2 separate regions of the Homo sapiens genome follow, and region 1 is linked to region 2. The links come from fine-mapping of genetic effects on gene expression. A gene starts in region 2. The other region holds a variant in brackets. All regions are shown on one strand. Distances are from middle to middle. Region 1 overlaps TRABD (TraB domain containing). Region 2 holds the start of TUBGCP6 (tubulin gamma complex component 6).

Evidence for each region. PIP is the estimated chance that this variant, and not a neighbour inherited with it, causes the effect. A credible set is the group of variants that fine-mapping cannot tell apart.
Region 1: its variant is the best candidate, but not a certain one, in a credible set for the expression of TUBGCP6 in whole blood (TOPMed, PIP 0.65).

What each region holds. Positions count from the first base shown.
Region 1 is chr22:50,191,521-50,194,412 of GRCh38, forward strand. TRABD (TraB domain containing) reads left to right here. Exons shown (of 10, transcript NM_001320485.2): 2 at 1,507-1,573; 3 at 2,056-2,134; 4 at 2,820-2,892. The coding sequence starts at 1,541. Among named protein-coding and RNA genes, the nearest start is that of TRABD, 7.1 kb to the left of the region's middle. RefSeq lists enhancers at 90-239, 1,000-1,049, 1,130-1,219 and a silencer at 390-439. The variant C/T (reference allele first, on the strand shown) is at 1,335.
Region 2 is chr22:50,243,412-50,246,303 of GRCh38, forward strand. It overlaps TUBGCP6 (tubulin gamma complex component 6), which reads right to left and starts at 1,612. Exons shown (of 25, transcript NM_020461.4): 1 at 308-1,612. The coding sequence starts at 1,048. HDAC10 (histone deacetylase 10) reads right to left here. Exons shown (of 20, transcript NM_032019.6): 17 at 2,887-2,892; 18 at 2,499-2,681; 19 at 2,264-2,416; 20 at 1,772-2,119. The coding sequence ends at 2,096. RefSeq lists enhancers at 201-1,131, 705-984, 1,395-1,444 and a silencer at 1,915-1,984.

The sequences.
Region 1 (2,892 bases), 52 kb before region 2:
TCTTATGAGTTCTGAGAAGTGGGCAGCAGTAGTGACATGAAAATGACCCCAGATGCACGCAGGCATCAGTGCAGAACCCGGCAGTGGCCCCTCTGAAGCACATCCTACAAGCCCCGTCGTTTCCTCGCCAGATGCTCGTGTCTGACTGACGCAGACGCTTCAAGACAAAACCACAATACCTTGCACGACTAGACAGCTCAGAATGGTTTCCAACGGCTCATTTTTATTTTTTACTTTTGTTTTTTTCTTGAGACAGAGTCTCCCTCTGTCACCCAGGTTGGAGTGCAGTGACAGGATCTCGGCTCACTGCAACCTCAGCCTCTCGGGTTCAAAGTGATTCTCCTGCCTCAGCCTCCCCAGTAGCTGGGATTACGGGTGTGCACCACCACGCCTGGCTAATTTGTGTATTTTTGGTAGAGATGGGGTTTCACCAGGATGGTCTATGTTGGCCAGGCTGGTCTCGAACTCCTGAGCTCAGGCAGTCCATCCACCTTGGCCCCCCAAAGTGCTGGGATTACAGGTGTGAGCCACCGCGCCTGGCCTGTTTGGGATATTTTAATGATTCTGCCTGGTGACACATCCATCCGCCAGGACATGCATGAGCCATTAACTTGGTAAACAGTCACTCCTGGCATTCCGTGGCTGAGAACATTCAGGAAGAGCCACATGGTGCAGCAGGGCCTGTGGCCAGTCTCAGGACAGCCTGCTGGTCCCTGGCCCCGCCTCGAGGGGCTCCGCGCAGGTCTCGCCGATGCTCTGTGGGTCTTGGCCGGTGCGTGCCTCTGGTGCTGCAGGCGCCTGGCTGTTTTCTTCCTTCCCTCAGGCTCCTGGGCCCCCGGCCTGAGCTCCTGGTTTCTGAGAGTCTGTGGGGAGCTGTGATGCCTCGGGGCAGCCCCCTCGTGTGGCTGCCCCAGCCTGTCCGGGTTTCTACCGTGGTTCCTTCCACACCATGTTTGTCTCTTAAAGTGGGAGAGAAGGTCTTAGGTCCAAACACGTTGATTTGTGTGCTTTGTGGATTCCTCCGTCTGTACTGACTCTGTGCCGGTGTTGTTGCCCAGGCTGTAGTTACTGAAAGGGGAAGTGGCTTTTGTACAAAGGCCCTGGGGTCCTTGCCATGTGTCAGCAGCTGCGTTGCTGTGTCCTGAGATCATGTGTGGACCCCAGGGCTGCCTTCCTATGTGTGCCCGCCGTGCCGCAGTGAGGGTTGGGCAGCTCTGGCCCTGTTCTGAGTGAGGCCTGTGCACCAGCAACCCGCCCTGGGCCCGTCTGCGTTTGGTTTATGCTGGGGTGTCTGGGGACCTGCTGGCCTTTCCCCACCCGGGCCTGACCTGAAC[C/T]GACCCTGGACCTCAGCAGCCTTTGATGGGCAGGAGGCATTTGGGGATATGGGGGAAGGAGCCCCCAGGCCCACCCAACAGATGGTTCTAGACTGACAGGGCACTACGCAGTGAGTCCTGAGCCAGGTCTGGGGCTCCAGGTGGAAACCCCGCCTCTCATGCCTCTCCTCAGGCTCCCCACAGGTGCAGGAAGCCGCCGCCCAGCCATGGACGGGGAGGAGCAGCAGCCACCGCACGAGGTGAGGTGGAGGCTGGGCTGGCTGCACAGAGACAGGGGCGGGGGGCTTCCCCGCTTTGTGGGCTCTCGGGGTCGGTCCCTGGCTGTTGTTCTGCAAAGGTGATCTTCACAGGGTTCTCCAGGGTCAGGCAGGAGGCACCTCCGAGGGAGAGGGGCGCTGGGCTGAGGTGGCCTGGTGGCCCTGTCTGCCCAGCTTGATGGCAGCCGTGCCAGTGATGGCCAAGCAGGAGGGGTACTGACAGTGTGGGGCCTAGGCTCTACGGAGGCCCTGCTTTTCAGGGTGTGTGGTACACAGAGCGGCCACGGGTCCCTTTCCCGGGTACGTGGTCCGTGGAGCGGTCACGGGCCCTCGTTTTTCAGGGTGTGTGGTCCACACAGCGGCCACGGGTCCCTTTCCAGGGTACGTGGTCCGTGGAGTTGCCACGGAGCCCTGGCTTTCTGGGGTGCATGGACCCTGACTTGAACTCTCCTTTCCACCTGCAGGCCAACGTGGAACCTGTTGTGCCGTCAGAGGCTTCAGAGCCGGTGCCCAGGGTGCTTTCTGGAGACCCCCAGAACCTGTGTACGTGTCCCTCAGGGTCCTGGCACGTTCCCCGGTGTTGGGCTGTTGAGTCAGGGAGGAGGGGGAGGCAGCCAACCACTGCCAGGGGCTTGGAGCTTGTGGTGAGCAGGGGCCCTGGCCGAGACCTGAGGTAGGTGCTGCTAGGCCTGGTGCCACCCAACAGCAGCTGCTCCTGGGCCCTGCCTGGCAGTGGAGCCTCTTGGAGGGGCTGCAAGCAGCACAGGCAGGCCCCTGGGCATGGGGGGCTCGTGAGCACAAGCAGTGTGAGCGGCACGGGAGTCCCTCCTTGCTGTGGCCTCAGCCTGTCCCTCCTGAGTGGGGTGGGGGGGCCCATTTCGCCTCAGAGCCCCTCCCCTAGCTGAGCCCCCTGCGGCACCTGCCCCCACTGTCCCCCACACCGAACCTCATCCACAGCAACCCCCAAGGTCGCCCTCATGGGGTGTATGGGGCACAGGACTCCTGAGGCCCTGGCTTCTCGAAGCCGTGCAGCTCACAGAGGTGGTAGCCGGTGTTCCCATCACTGGGCAGGCAAAGCCTGTGGAGTGTGACGCTCGTCAGGAGTCTTGTGCTCTGCACCTGTTCAGTTCTCAGAACCCAGGAGGGTTCTAGAGCCCAGGCTGCCAGCGGGCCCGGCGGCGTCCTTGGGGTGGGCCCGGCACCACAACGGCCTGTGCTGCTGTTGCAGCCGACGTGGACGCCTTCAACCTGCTCCTGGAGATGAAGCTGAAGCGGCGGCGTCAGCGGCCCAACCTGCCGCG
Region 2 (2,892 bases):
CACGGCACTCCAGCCTGGGCAACAGAGCAAGACTCCATCTCAAAAAAAAAAAAAAATTAAGCCGGGCGTGGTGGCAGGTGCCTGTAATTTCAGCTACTCGGGAGGCTGAGGTACGAGAATTGCTTGAGCCCAGAAAGTGGAGGTTAAGGTGAGCCAAGATCGCGCCACTGCACTCCAGCCTGGGTGACAGAGTGAGACACTGTCTCAAAAAAAAAAAAAAAAAGAAGAAGAAGAAGAAGAAGAAAGGTCACAGGAAGCATTTTCCAAACCCCGAGAGAGATGAAAGAGGAAAAACTAAACATTCTACCTTAATAGCCAGCCCAGAGAGGTCCGCATTGTCTGGCACGGGGGGCAGGCCCAGTCGGACGTCCATGTCATAAGTGCGGCTGTGCACAAGGGCCCCGAAGAGCGAGACCCGGGTGTCTCTCTCGAACCTGTCACCACAAGGGTCACCAAATGAGAAGAGCCCGACGGTGGGCAGGCCAGTGCCTGGAGCAGCCTCCATAACCTGAAGTGTTTCCTGGATCATGCTGTGACACAAACACTCTTCTCTGGAGATCAGAGACTGAACGTCCATCTCAAACACACTCAGGTCGTCGCAATCATAGCCGCTGTACGGAACGTTTCTCCCCACATGCTTGTTGTTAAGGAAGTAGTCTCGTTTTCTCGGCAGAACTTGAGGGGGACCACTCCCTGCCAGCTGAACCAGGAGGTCCAAAACAGACCCCACCTCCAAAAGCGGACAGCAAGGGGCTGCTTCCAGCTCCTCCACAAGCTCCTCCAAACGGTCGGCCTTGGGGCCCAGGCCACCCACTCTCAAGTCAAAGGACAACATGAGGATCTTGTTTCTCGCTGGTAGTTTTGACATGTCAGGCTGCAGCTGTTGAGTCTCATCTTGAAAAAGATTTGTGAAAAGAGCATTGTAGGCCACCTTCTTGAGGCTCCGCTTTGCCCTCTTCCGGTTCACACTGCGCTGGCCCAGGTGAGTCTTGGCAGCCGGCAGGAGGGCCTCACACAGGTCGTCGAACAGCTGCGTGATGCTGGCCATGCCCCTTCTCAGCTCCGGGCCCCCGGCGTGTGGGAAAACACCTCACCCGGGCTTCACTCACGCTCCGGAAGACAGGGAGTGAGAGAGGGTCCGAAGAGGCTGAATGACAGGCGGCCTCTCCAATGCCGAAGCTCAGAACTGGTATTTTTTAAAGGAGGTCTTGCGGTTGCTCTACTCAGAGTAAACACGCCCTGCCCTCCCCAGTCCAAGCACGCTGCCCGGCGCCCGGCAGCCCACCAGAAGCCAGCTCGGCGTTTCTTCTAATTCAGTAGCCCTCAACCTTTAGGGAGTCACAGAACCGTGGCAAAACCGAAGAACGAAACGCGCGCCCGCGCAGTACAGCGGACGAACTCGGCTTTGCACCCGTTCTTCGGGACCCACGAGAGGAGACGGCCAGGAGAGGGTGCCACTCCGAGGGTCGTGGGCAGCGGAGAGTCTGGGGGCTCAGCCGGGTGGGTCCCGGGTTCTGGCCTGCACGTCCACCCGTTCTCCAGGCCTCACCCGTGGAAAGTGCCCACGGCTGCCGCTCTCGCCGCCTCCGTCGCGTCACAGCCGCGCCAGTGTGAAGAGCACTAGGGCGGGCGCGCCGGAAATACGTCACGGGAACGCCGGCAGCGCGTGAAGTTGGTGAGGCCTGGGCCGCGGCATACTTCCGGCCTGAGTCCGGCACCGCGGGTGAGAGACCGAGGCCGAGCGTGCTCAGTAAAGGAGGCAGAGCCAGCGTTTCGTTTGAGCGATGTTTACTAACGGCGCAAGGGCGGGGAGCGAAGCGCAGCGGGGCGCAGGGGCCGGAACGGGACCGAGCGTGGGTTGCATGGGCCTCGATGGGACGGGCCGGGGCGCGATGGGTGGGGCGGGGGCGAGGTGAGGTGAGGGGTGGAGCGGGGGAAGCACGGGTGGGAGAGGGCGGGGCGCGGGGATTGGGAGTGGGCGGGGTTCCGTGCCCCAGAGTCGAGGGAGCCGTGGGCTTGGGGTCCGGATCGCGGCCGCGGGGCGCTGGCGTGCGGTGTCATTTCTGCGGTGTAAATGCTCCCACCTTGGCCGATTTCAAGCCACCAGGTGAGGATGGCACTACAGGAGGAGCCGAGAAGAGGCGCGCAGTTGGCCTCCGGCGCTGGAGCTGGTTCAGGGCACTCCCCTGCCCTGCCCTCCCCACCGATCTGTGCGGCAGAGCCAGGCCCCAGGGCAGGGCCATGCCTCCGCAGTCAGCCTCACCTGCAACATCTTCCACTGAGGCTCCAGCTGCCCTCTCAGGTACATCAGGGCCTGGACGTCCTCTGGGGAGGCCACAGAGGAAGGGCCTAGGCTAGGAGGTGCCTCTCCATTCAGCACCCGGGCCAGGATCCCTGCTAGCTGGGGTGTGGAGTTCTGGACCAGGGGCGAAGACGGAAGCAGTCACTGGTCCTTTCCCTCGTCCCACCCCGCAGCACCTCCACCCTGCCCAGCTTACCTCCTCCAGGAGGGCCAGGACTCGGCCCCCTGCCAGCCCCCGAAGCATTGCAGCCAGGAGTGCAGCGTGGGGGCCCTGCAGGCCATGGCCAGGCCCCAGCGCCACCAGCACCAGGTCAGGCTGGAAGCCATAGGCCAGGGGCAGCACCAAGCCCAAGATGCAGCTCAGGAAACCACCGGTCATCTGTGGGGACAGCAGAGCCCAGCTCCTCATCTACGGACACCTGCTGGCTCTGGCCTCCCAACCTCCCAATCTCAGGGCCCCTGGAGTAGGAGCAGGGAGACAGGAAGGACCAGAGGCCTGCTATCATGACAATGCCAGCAAACAGCAGCTGTACACATCCATGGGCTCCCCAGCACCTGCCTTGCCGCGTGGCATGGTCACTCACCACTGG